Linked DNA regions of Homo sapiens: all the other regions are reported to be linked to region 2. Evidence: microRNA targets listed by miRTarBase, many of them from high-throughput screens and not tested one by one. Region 2 holds a microRNA gene; each other region holds the end of a gene's coding sequence.
The links. The annotated mature microRNA hsa-miR-6081 reads AGGAGCAGUGCCGGCCAAGGCGCC and lies in region 2 at 2,788-2,811, shown strand. An mRNA with a match to its seed (bases 2 to 7 or 8) in the 3' UTR can be bound and repressed. Matches are read on the target gene's strand: a 7mer-m8 pairs with bases 2 to 8, a 7mer-A1 pairs with bases 2 to 7 and ends in A, and an 8mer does both.

Region 1 (4,109 bases), not on the chromosome of region 2:
AGCCAGTGATGCCAATTACCATGAGAAATTTCCTTATTTTTAACTGTCGATTAAAATTTGTACAAGTATGGTGGGGCAGGCCTGCAAAATGATCTCCAAGTGCCTGGCCTTTGATGCCCGTCCTAAAAGCATGTGTGGCACTGGAGGGCCCACGTTTCTTTGTTCCTCTTGAGAAGCTGGGGTGGGGGCCGGCTGGGCTCAGGGTGCGGCCCCTCACTTCCCAGGGCTGTGGTCTCGGTGGGGCCTGCACTGTTCCTGGGTGTCCTTGGGCTGAGCCTCTGCCCTGTGAGGACGGCCGCTCAGGCATGATCCGTCAGCGAAGCCGTGGCTGTGACTCTGTTTTCCGCAGTGGAGCGGAGGCGGAGGGACAAGATCAACAACTGGATCGTCCAGCTTTCGAAAATCATTCCAGACTGTAACGCAGACAACAGCAAGACGGGAGCGGTGAGCACCCCGGACCCTCAGTGTCTGCGGTGGTCCCGGCCCCCGACCCTTGCATGCAGAAAGTCCAACAGCCATGGGGCTCGGGAGTCATCCCTGGGGTGGAGGCCGGTGGGCGGTGCCTGCCCTAAGGCTCCTGGTCCCCTCGCCCCCCAGAGTAAAGGAGGGATCCTGTCCAAGGCCTGCGATTACATCCGGGAGTTGCGCCAGACCAACCAGCGCATGCAGGAGACCTTCAAAGAGGCCGAGCGGCTGCAGATGGACAACGAGCTCCTGAGGCAGCAGGTGGGTGCGGGGCCTGGAGCGGGTCAGGGCCCAGGAGCCCCAGATGCAAGGCGCTGGCCCTCAGCTCCCTTGACCTCCGTCGTGTCCGCCAGATCGAGGAGCTGAAGAATGAGAACGCCCTGCTTCGAGCCCAGCTGCAGCAGCACAACCTGGAGATGGTGGGCGAGGGCACCCGGCAGTGACGCCCGCCACCACCACGCAGCCGCCGCCGCCCACGCCGGCCTCTGCTGCCCCCTTCCCCAGCCCTTAGCACAGAGAGGGACACATGCCCCTCCCCCAGCTGCGTTTTTTTATAGTAGATTTTTAACAAAAAACGGGGAGAAATAATGCATTTCTGTGGATACAGTGCCCACCGCCCTCCTCCACTTGGAAACGGTATCCTCCCTGCCCATCCGTCTGTCTGTCGCCCTTCTCCCGGCCCTCACTAAGCCCCGGCACTTCTAGTGGTCTCACCTGGAGGCAAGAGGGAGGGGACAGAGGCCCTGCCACGTCCCGCTGCCTCCTGCTCTCTGGAGGTACTGAGACAGGGTGCTGATGGGAAGGAGGGGAGCCTTTGGGGGGCCACCCGGGGCCTGGACCTATGCAGGGAGGCCACGTCCCACCCCACCTCTTGTTTCTGGGTCCCTGCTCCCCTTTGGGGGTGTGTGTGTGTGTTTTAATTTTCTTTATGGAAAAATTGACAAAAAAAAAATAGAGAGAGAGGTATTTAACTGCAATAAACTGGCCCCATGTGGCCCCCGCCTTGTCTGCTTGTGTGTTTGTCCATCTCAGGAGTGGGGAGGGGGCCTGGGGTCTGCAGAGCTCCACGAGGCATGGTTCTGCTGTTGTGCACATGGCTGTGCATGGTCCCTGCCAGCTGCACCACCCATTACCCAGTGGTTGGTTGGATGGATGGAGGAATTAAGGAATGAATGTCCCCTTTGAGGCCCTAGACGTGCATGAGGGTGTGGGGAGCTGGGGTCAAGGACATGTCCCATGTTGGAGGAGAGGCAGGGGTCTCCGTGTCAACAGTTCCTGAAAACACAACCAGCCCCTGGCCCTGCCCTGCTGGGCCAAAGCCCTCCCCTCTGCACCAGCCAATAGTGGGGCCTGGCCTTGAGCCCCTCACCCCCAGGGAGGGCAGATGGCCAGGGCGCCAAGCTTGGCCCGTCAGCCTGTCGCCTTGCACCAAGGCTCTGGCGCCTGTGCTGTGACCCCTGCCCCTGCTGATGATGAAACCTGTCCTCAGCTGAGATGCAGCGATGCCTGGTAGGGCTGGGGGCTGCTCCTGTGTCTCCCCAGGTGAGCACACCCCTATTCACTGGGCCCTGCTTCAGCCTGCAGCACCCTTCAACTCCCAGGAGCTGGGCTTGCCACTCTGCTCACCTTGTGGAGCTCCATCTGCCTTTCCTCCCCAATTCCCCCACTCCCTGCACTCGTCTCTTCCCACAAGAGCCCTGTCTCCTTTTCCTAGCTATTCCCATCTGAGGCCATCTTTATTCATTTAGTTTTTAGAGACAGGGTTTCACTCTCACCCAGGCTGGGGTGCAGTGGCACACAATCACGGCTCACTGCAGCCTTGACCAACTACAGGTGCGTAGCACCACAGCCAAGTTTTTGTATAGATGGGGTCTCGCTTTGTTACCCAGGCTGTGACAAGAGGAGCCTCCCACGTGGTGTGGATGAGGAGGCAGATGGCAGGGCCTGTGCATTTCTGTGCTTGAGTGGGCCTTGAAAGTGGTTCAGCAACCAGGAAGAAGTGTTCATTCCTCGACAACAACATCCCCGGGCTCTGGTGACTTGGCTGACACTGGATGGCCCTGGAATGAAAAAGGCAAAGAGGCAAAATGTGCAAGGGCCCATCTGGAACCAAGGTTTGTTGATCCCCTGGGCCGTGTGCACCCTGAGCTGGGCCTGGTAGTGGAAAGGAATGAAGGCACTGCAGTCAGGCAGCCTGGGTTCATCCCCCAGCTAGTGGTGTCCTAAGGAACCGGCTCCCCAAAAACATCCCTGGCTTGTAGTGCTTGCCAATTTCTGGGTGTCAAGACTCCCACTGCTGCTGATTTCAGGATACCAGCATGATGCCACTGAATGCAGAGTTTCGAGATGTGCATGGTCTGCTATGTTGAGCCAGGTCTAGCATACCGCTGTGCCCTGCTGTGTTTTAGGGGAGATGGGGAAACCTGGTGGGTAAGAGCAAAAGCCCTGGAGTCAGGCTGTCCAGGCTAGAATCTCAGCTCTGCCTCTGGCTGAGCAAGCTTGGGCCATGCCCTGATCTCTGCCTTCAGTGCCTTTTCTGTAAAGTGAAGGAAATGAGTGTCCGACGGGGAGGAGGTTCCTAAAAGGGAGCAGGGTCTGGGGAGCCCAGGCCTCTGGGGTTGGGTGACTGAGAAGGCAGCCCCTGAATACAGAGCAGAGCTGAAGGTGGGGCAGTAAGTGCTGCTGGGAGAACAGGCAGCACAGGCTGAGTTGGTGCAGAAGTGAGTCAACATATGTGCCATCGTATAAAATGTACTCATCGGACTGTAGATGTTAGCTATTACTATTACTGCTATTTTATGTTTTATAGACAGGGTCTCACTCTGTCACCCAGGCTGGAGTGCAGTCACACAATCATAGCTCACTGCAACCTCAGCCTCCTGGGCTTAAGCGATCTGCCTCAGCCTCCCAAGTAGCTGGGACTACAGATGTGTGCCACCACGCCTGGCTAAATTTGTTTAAAATTTTTTTTGTAGAGATGGGGTCTCCCTATGTTGCCCAGGCTAGTCTTGAACTTCTGGGCTCAAGCGACCCTCCTGCCTTGGCCTCCCAAATTGCTGGGATTACAGGCATAAGCCACTGTGCTGGGCCATATTACTGCTGTCATTTATGGCCAAAAGTTTGCTCAAACATTTTCCAGTTACCAGAGCCACATCTCAAGGGTCTGACACTGGGAAAACACCACGTGCGGATCGGGCACACGCTGATGCTTGCCCTGCTCAGGGCTATCTAGTGTTCCCTGCCAGAACCTATGCACGTGTGGTGAGAGCTTAAAGCAATGGATGCTTCCCCCAACATGCCAGACACTCCTGAGGAGCCTGGCGGCTGCTGGCCATGCCCCGTGTGCATGTAGGCGATGGGGAAGTGAGTGGAGGAGAGCGGAACCTTGATTCTGCTCATCAAACTGCTTAACCGCTGAAGCAAAAGGGGGAACTTTTTTCCCGATCAGCAGAATGACATCGTGATGGGGAAAGGGCTCCCCAGATGGCTGGTGAGCAGTGTGTGTCTGTGACCCCGTCTGCCCCACCCCCTGAACACACCTCTGCCGGCTGAGGGTGACACAACCCTGTTCCCTGTCGCTCTGTTCCCGCTTATCTCTCCCGCCTTTTCGGCGCCACCACCTTCTTGGAAATGAGACAGAGCAA
Region 2 (4,111 bases):
ACGAGATTACTATTAACCATTCTTTCTATGTGTGGTGCTTCTGTGTATGGGCTGTGTTCACAGAGCATCTGATCTGTTGGTCTGATTTTCTGAGTGTAGCACTGAGTCTGCTGCGGCTGCTTGCCAAGGGCTTGAATGTCGAGGGGTTGTGGGGCCAGGGTTCTGAATACTATCTCAGGTTATGCACACCCTGCCTGCCCTCCATGTGCCTGCATCACGTGATGTGAAGACCCAGGTGTATGCTCTTCATGGAGGCAATGCCCCCGTGTTCAGAATGTGAAAGGAAAAGTGCTCAAGGACAGACAGAGTTGAGAGCATGGGTGGAGTAGGCAAACCATCCCAGGCTACCTCCTGCCTTGCCACCCCTCTGCAGGGCGGGCACAGGCTGCGCTCCTTGATGCTCCTTGGCCTGGAGAGTGAAGCTGACCTCAAAGTCAGCCATCTTGTATGTAGCAGGCCTCAGGACTATGGGCGGGTGCTGGGCCACTGCAGCCAGCACGGAAAATGAGCCGAAGGGAAATCCGTTCCACAGAAGCACCTTGTCTTTCTGCAGTTTTTGAGTATATTTCTCAAATAGCCATAAAAGTTTAAAAAATATATTTGACAGCTAACTCTGGGAACAAAACATGTTATCTAAGATCCCTTTTTAAGTAACACATTTCCTGCCTGCCTTAGCAGGTCTCTTAAGCTGTAAAAATAGCTACCCATGGCAGTGAGATGAGGATCCCTGGACCTTGCCTTTCTGACCTCTTTCCCCCAGGAAGTCCATGACTGACCTTCAGGCAGCAGCATCTCTGCAGGCTCCACTGAGCGCTTTCAGATCTCCGCAGACTCCACTGAGCGCTTTTAGATCTCCGCAGACTCCACTGAGCGCTTTCAGATCTCTGCAGACTCCACTGAGCGCTTTCAGACTGGGGCCATGCCTCAGGGGATGGGCTCCCCCTGTGTTGTTTTGCTGGTGGCCACGAATCCGAAAGGCCCATGCTGCAGCGTGCCCTGCTTTGAGTTTGGTTGATATGCTTAATAAGAACATTAGTTTTCTGGGAGAATTTGGTAGCACCCGTTCTTCCCTTCACTGTGTGGGGGAAATAGTGTTGATTGAAAGGAAGAGGACTCCGAGATTGGATTGGAGCAAGAAAGTGTGGGTATCGTGTGTTGTGACTGTGTCTTCTCCGGGGTGCTGCTTCACTGGAGGTCTCCCTTCAGGGTCTGGCCCTCATGCCTGGCCCCAGGTGCTCGTGTGCACGTGAGCGGCTCTTCCTGCTGACTGACTACAGCTAATTGACAAAAGGCAGTTTCAAAAAAAAAAAAAATCTCAACTTAGTAAGGTGTCAGCACAGAGGGGAGTAGCTAGAAAAAGCTTGCTAACAACATTTAGAGGCCACCCTAAGACAGCTATACTCTCCCAAAGTGCCAAAGAATGTAACCTTGGGAGGCTCCACTCTTTCATGTAGAATTGCAAACTAAACTAGTAGGAGCAAGTGAATGTGAGGAAACAGATTGTAAGGGCATACCTGTTTCAGCACTCATCCGGCTGCCTTCCAGGATAGAAAGGAAACTCCAGGTTGATTGGAAATGGAAAAAACGACCAGCGTCACAGGCCTGTCCCGTAGCACGGGCAGTAGCTGAAGAGGCCCTGCAGACCCTGTGTAATGGGTCTAGGTCTCCTCTACCTCTTTTTTGTTTGTATGTTTGAGACGGAGTCTCGCTGTGTCTCCCAGGCTGGAGTGCAGTGGCACGATCTTGGCTCACTGCAACCTCCAACTCCCAGGTTCAAGCAGTTCTGCCTCAGCCTCCCGAGTAGCTGGATTACAGGTGCCCACCACCACGCCCAGCCAATTTTTTGTATTTTAATAGAGACGGGGTTTCACCATCTTGGCCAGGCTGTTCTCGAACTCCTGACCTCATGATCCACCTGCCTTGGCTTCCCAAAGTGCTGGGATTACAGGCGTGAGCCACCGCGCCTGGCCTCGTCTACCTCTTTTGATGCATCGTACACAAGCCATTGGTCAGGGGGCGGGTCCACAAGCTGGTATTTATCTTAATATGCTGTTACTAATACATTGTTTACTTGGGAAGAAAGCACCATAGCATTTATTTGCAGTCCAAAGGTGGAAGTTGTGAGTCCAGCAACACAATCATGTGACAGCTTTAATGCTCATTTATGAATTTCATTTGGGCCAAAAGCATAGTTCTGTGACTCAAGCACTTAATGATTAATAGAACTCTAGAGGAACTTACCAAAGGGGCAAAGAATGAAGGTTTGATGGTTGTTACATCTCCAGATTCTAAAATTGATCCATAGTTGTGGTTCTGTTCGTTCCTTTCAGTGCTAGAACTCTTTCCATTAGAGATGACTTTCGTCTTCTGCTTTGGAGGGCTTGGAGATGTGAAATGTTCAGGAGGGTCTTTTCCCTGCTGTTGGAGCTTCTTTTTCTTCCCTGGTTGCTTTTTCATAGTATTCTGGCTACAAATAAGTAAGACATTTCTATTTTGTTTTGTTACAGAGTGGCTTAGAGGAAAGGTTAGATATAATCTCTTTGGGCTCTGTTGCTGTTTCAGGATGCTCGATGCTTTAGATTTATTAATATGTAGTGTGCTGAACTTAGAAGTCCTTCCTCTTGTCTGCCTTGATCCAGAGTCTAAGCGTAATAAAGGCAGAAACTCTGGCTATGCTGACGTCAGGTCCTGTCATCGTGGTGTGTGAGGGCAGCACCCAGCTCTGCCTCTCCCACCACGGTGCTGGCACCAGGGCCTCTGCCCCGTAGGACACCGAGGCTTATGAATAGGAGCAGTGCCGGCCAAGGCGCCGGCACCATCTTGGTGATGTCCAGGGGGCCCACCCAGGCCCCCTTTTCCTCTCCTCCCCTTCTCCTGCTGGCTGCCCTTGGTGCAGGCGAATCCAGGGCCTCATTACTAAGCCAGCTGGCTCACCACGTCATCATCCAGCATTGTCAGGAGACACCATTGTGGAACAGAGCCCTACAAGGCAGGTTTTCAGATTGAACATGAAAAAGAACACCATTGTGGAGTGTCAGAGTAGTGTGTGCAATTAGTGAAATGCTTTTATAGGGTAAAATACAAGGAACCAGGTCCCCCCGGGATCCCAAAAGGGCAAGTTGACACTTGCCACCTCCACCTGGCAACCCACAGAAGCTCAGCATTAGGCCGTTTCTCACAGTATGATTGCAGGTACAGGGGTCTGGCTTACTGGCCCATTGATGCCATCAACCTTAGGTTACAGATCAAGAGGCCAGATACCGATGAGTCTGAACTTTAGAACATGGCCTGTGAATAGTGTGACTTCAGGTTTTTAGAAAGCTGAGACCATGCTTGTGAGGGTCATGGCTGTCCCTTTGACAGAGCATTATTCCTTTTCTAGAGTTTAAAAGGTGGGTATAGATTGAAAAAAGGGATTGGGGTAATTGTCTTTAGTTACTTTAGACATATCTTTTTACACCATCTGCTTTTTATGATAGGAGAAAGAATAGAGTTCTCTGGTTTTATTTGTGCATTTTTTCTTTGTCTTATTTGGTTTATGAAACATTTAATCGATGTTTCAGAACATTCTTTCAAAGTCAGGACGGTCTGTCTCTCAGTACATCCTTCTTAGGGTTTTCTTTCTGTTATTCAATTCAGTGCCTCTGGAACTTTCCTGTGGAAAGCCTGCAACAGCATCTCCCCTGTTATACTGTGATAAAGGGATTTTTTTTTTAAAAAGCTGATCTAAAATCACAAAGAACTTTCTTTTTTAGATAAATAATTTCCTGTGTTGTTCCTGAAGATTGTGTTTTGTTTACTGTGAATTTATAGCAAATGAAAGTAAAGAAGAAGCAAGCCATGGACAGCATAATCTGGCTAATTTTTCTTAAATGGTCAGCTTAGCATTTATCTGTTTAAAGAGAGAGGGCATTTAATAGGTGGCTTTTAGCTACAGGTTCAGCCAGACTTTATTAGAAAAGCCACTGGTTGCAGAGTGTCCCTGCCGTCTGCTGTTTGCACAGGGTTCAGCAGTGGGCCCACTGTTACCGACCTCTGAAGATGTGAGGGCCTCTGTGTTTGCTCCATAGGGCGCTCTCCAGTCTGTATAGATTTTCTCAGAAAGATGGAG
Region 3 (4,111 bases), not on the chromosome of region 2:
TGGTGAGTTTCAGAGCCAGTGTGGCCAGTCTAGTCCCTCCCCTTTCCCTAGCCCAGCACAATTCCCTCCATTGAGGGCCCACATCACCTCCAGAGGGAGGAGGGAGGGGTCAGACCCCCCCATAGCACCAATCTGGATAGGCCACTCTCTGACAAAACAGAGCGAGCAGTGCCTTCCACAAACGGGGTAAATGGGGCTAAGAAGGGGGGAGGCCTTTTCCTGTGGGAGACCAAGAGTAGCACCATCTGTAGAAAGAAAGCTGGGGGGTAAGGGAGGCACATAGATGGTGGCAGACAGCTGAGGGGTCCTGGCTTCTCTCCCCACCTGGCAATATGCAGACAGCACCGTGCCTGTGCATGTGCCTGTGTGGCTGGAGAAGTCTTCAGATTGCAAACCACCCAAGGGGTGAGGGAGCCCCAGGTGCCCCAAACATGTGGGGTAAAGTCAAGGTAAGTGCATGTCTGGAGGGCTGGGGTGGGAAGTGGAGGGGGTTCTGGGGCACAGAGATTGTAGGCAATGAGAATGGAGAGGCATGAAGTCCAGGAGCAGCACAGCCTAGAGGGTAGGGGTTTAGAATGGGAAAACTTAAGACTGAAAGAAGGAATTGGGTAAGTTCAGTGGGGTGGGAAGCCCAGAATAGATTTAGGAGGCTGGGGTCTGGAATTAGGGAGTTGAGGTTATAAGATTCAGAACCAGAGGAATCTTTAGGGAAAAGTCTAGATTCCAGAATCAGAAGCATTTGGAGGCTGAATTATAGAATCAGAGGAATTTGGATCTGAAATCAAAGGCAGTTGGAAGCTGTGAGGCTTAGAAGCAGAGGAATTTATAGAATAAAGCATAGAATTAGAAAAAGCCTGGCTGGGCTCAGTGGCTCATGCCTGTAGTCCCAGCACTTTGGTGAGGCCAAGGAGGGAGAATTGCTTGAGCTCAGTAGTTCGCGACCAGCCTGGGCAACATGGTGAAACCCCGTCTCTATTTTTTTTTTTTTAACAAAAAAAAGGAAAAACAAAAGCCTAAAATCTGAGTTCTAGAACCAGAGAGATTTGGGAACCATAAGATCTAGAATCAGAAGGAGTTGAGGGTGGTAAGATCTAAAACCAGAGAAATGTATAAGGCAAAGTCTAAAATCAGAAGATATTTGAAGGCTGAATTCTAGACCCAGGGTAATTTGGAGTCAGATCTTGAGTGAGGAGGAGCTGGAAATGATGAAGTCTAGAGCCAAGGGAACTTACGGAATGAGGTCTAGAATCAGAAGGCACTTGTAAGTCAGTTCTAGAACCAGAGAAACAGCAGATCACCAGATCTTGAATCAGGACCCTGGAGGTGGCACCTTCTAGAAGTTGTGTAGTCTGGAACTAGTGAGTGGTACAGGTCATGAGGTTCAGAATCTAGGAGAACTAGAGCATCGTCTGGTTCTAGAAGAACTGGTTATTATAAGATAAGGACAGGGTCGGGCACGGTGGCTTATGCCTGTAATCCCAGCACTTTGGGAGGCTGAGGCGGGTGGATCATCTGAGGTCAAGAGTTCAAGACCAGCCCCTCCAACTTGGCAAAACCCCGTCTCTACTAAAAAATACACAAAGGTAGCCGGATGTGGTGGTGGGCTCCTGTAATCCCACCAATTTAGGAGGCTGAGGCAGGAGAATCACTTGAATCAGGAGGCGGAGGTTGCAGTGAGCCTAGATGGCACCATTATACTCCAGCCTGGGCAACAGAGAGAGACTCCATCTCAAAAAAGAAAAAAAAAAAAAAGAAGAGGAAGAAAAAAGAGATAAACACATCAAACTCTCTGTACTTGTTTTTGATGAGAGAAAATGAGTCTTGGTTATAGAGAACTGCAGAAGAATAAGCTGAGCCTCATAAGGTCTAAAACAAAAGTGATTTAGAAATTAAGAAGTCTGGCCAGGCTCACTCCTGTAATTTCAGCACTTTGGGAGGCTGAGGCGGGTGGATCAGTTGAGGTCGGGAGTTCAAGACCAGCCTGGCCAACATGGTGAAACACTGTCTCTACTAAAAATATAAAACTTAGCTGGGCGTGGTGGCACATGCCTGTAATCCCAGCTATTTGGGAGGCTGAGGCCCAAGAATTGCTTGAACCCAGGAGGTGGAGGCTGCAGTGAGCCGAGATTGAGCCACTGTACTCCAGCCTGGGTGACAGAGTGGGACTCTGTCTCAAAAAAAAAAAAAAAAAAAGAGAGAGATTAAGAGGTCTGGATTTGGAACCAAATGTATTACCGATCAGGAGAACTGGAACCAATAGGAAGCTTGGAGTTGTGGGGTCCAGAACCAGAGGAAATCACTGAATATAAGATCTGGAACCGGAGGGCGTTGGAGGGTGTGAGATCTAAAACAAGAGGGATTAATTTATAGGAAGAGGTCTAGAACCAGAGGAAGTTAGTGAATTCTAGAACCAAAAGAATCTGGTAGTCATAGACTATAGAGCCAGAGGGAGTTAGAGGCCCAGAACCAGACAATTTTTGGGGATCGTAAGGTTTGAAAACAGGCAGAATGAGAGGCTGGTGAGGCCCAGAACTAGAAAGAGCTGAAGACGGTGAAATTCGAAGCAGAGGGATTTGGAGAAAGTGAGTTCTAGCCGGGTGCAGTGGCTCACGCCTGTAATCCCAGCACTTTGGAAGGCTGAGGCAGGTGGAGCACTTGAGGTCAGGAGTTCGAGACCAGACTGGACAACGTGGTGAAACCCCATCTCTACTAAAAATACAAAAATTAGCCGGGCAATGTGGCACATGCCCGTAGTCCCGGCTATTTGGGAAGTTGAGGCAGGAGAATCACTTGAACCCAGGGCGCGGAGGCTGCAGTAAGCTGAAATCGCGCCACTGCACTCCAGCCTGGGTGACAGAGCAAGACTCTGTCAAAAAAAAAAAAGAAGAAGAAGAGGAAGAGGAGCAGGAGGAAGAGGAAGAGGAAGAAGGAAGAAGAAGAAGGTGATCTAAAGCAGACCACATTGGAGGTTGTGTGGTCTAGAACCAGTGCAGGTCAGAGGTTATACAGTCTGGAACTGGAGCAGGTTGGAGGTTGCATAGTTTGGAAGCAGAGGAACTGGGAGGCTGCCCCTGAAGTAGGAGGACCATGAATGAAGTCAGTGTCCAGGCAAAGCTGGGGGCGGCAGGAAGCCCAGAGCGCAAGGGGCAGTCAGAGCTGGCGGGCAGCTTGGGGTCTTTGGCCTCAATCGGAAGTCACTGGGGGTGAGGTCTGGCCCAGAGCCTCTCCGCACTGACACCTGAAGAGGGGGAAGATCAGAGTCCCACATTCTTACAGACCCCAGGCAATTCATCATGATTAAAAACCATATCATGAAATTGACAAAAATAAAAATAATAATACAAGAAGGATAGAAGGAAATGTGATCACGTTGACCCGTGGATCATTGTTCTCCCCAGAACCTGGAAACACAGATATGACCCCCCCAACCCTCCTCACCCCTGATTCCCCAAAATAAAGCCAAGAGAGGCAGAGAAAGGGATAATGAGGTAACCAAGTATTGAGAACCCCAAGAGAAATCCTGAGAGAAGGAGGAGGGGGCCAGGGACCACCTCCCAGAGGTCACTGAGCTGAGACCACCCCAGAGAGCCCCCAGATTGGGAGCAGGCAGAGGGGTGAGGGCTGAGGTAGGCCCGAGGTGGGCAGGGGGTACATAGAGGAGAGAGGGGCCCCTCTCCTGGCGCCCCCATCCTGTGCGTTGGCTGCCGGCGTGGAGTGTGGTTGAGGTCCTTTCTGGGGGAGGAGAAGGCAGATGGGGAGAGGAGCCGGCTCAGTCAGCCTGGGCTGAGCCTGCCCTTGGCTGGAAGGGGCCCCCGGGCTGGGTAGTGTCCTCGTCTGAGTACGGAGAGAGCAGTGAGGGGCCCAGGCCTGCAAAGATGAAAGATAAATGATAAATGAAAGGTAAAAGACGAAAGATAAATCACAGGACAACCATAACCCCAATGTCAGGAATAATGTTTAAAATCTTAAGGAAATTGAACACTCGAACAAAGGATTTTTAGTAATTTTACTTTTGCGCAGAGGGGTGCCTCTTTGGCTAGTTGCCATGAGAGCACACTGGAACAAAGGGGCACAAGAGCCTTTATTTTTGACGCAAGTCTTGTTTTTGTAC

Region 1: miRTarBase lists USF2 as a target of hsa-miR-6081. Seed matches in the 3' UTR shown: 7mer-m8 at 1,351-1,357.
Region 3: the mRNA of HIF3A is a reported target of hsa-miR-6081. Seed matches in the 3' UTR shown: 7mer-m8 at 3,600-3,606, 8mer at 3,018-3,025, 7mer-m8 at 2,901-2,907, 7mer-A1 at 2,648-2,654 and 7mer-m8 at 543-549.

Annotation. Positions count from the first base shown.
Region 1 is chr19:35,278,349-35,282,457 of GRCh38, forward strand. It overlaps USF2 (upstream transcription factor 2, c-fos interacting), which reads left to right. Exons shown (of 10, transcript NM_003367.4): 8 at 350-444; 9 at 598-726; 10 at 819-1,473. The coding sequence ends at 908. Among named protein-coding and RNA genes, the nearest start is that of HAMP, 2.1 kb to the right of the region's middle. RefSeq lists enhancers at 1,674-2,173, 1,846-2,345, 1,852-1,996, 2,436-2,515, 2,606-2,655 and 1 more and a cis regulatory region at 1,917-1,930.
Region 2 is chr9:95,062,619-95,066,729 of GRCh38, forward strand. MIR6081 (microRNA 6081) reads left to right here and starts at 2,732; the gene lies at 2,732-2,828. The region is part of intron 14 of AOPEP (aminopeptidase O (putative)); the gene reads left to right. RefSeq lists an enhancer at 160-869.
Region 3 is chr19:46,339,281-46,343,391 of GRCh38, reverse strand. It overlaps HIF3A (hypoxia inducible factor 3 subunit alpha), which reads right to left. Exons shown (of 15, transcript NM_152795.4): 15 at 1-3,867. The coding sequence ends at 3,770. Among named protein-coding and RNA genes, the nearest start is that of PPP5C, 5.8 kb to the left of the region's middle.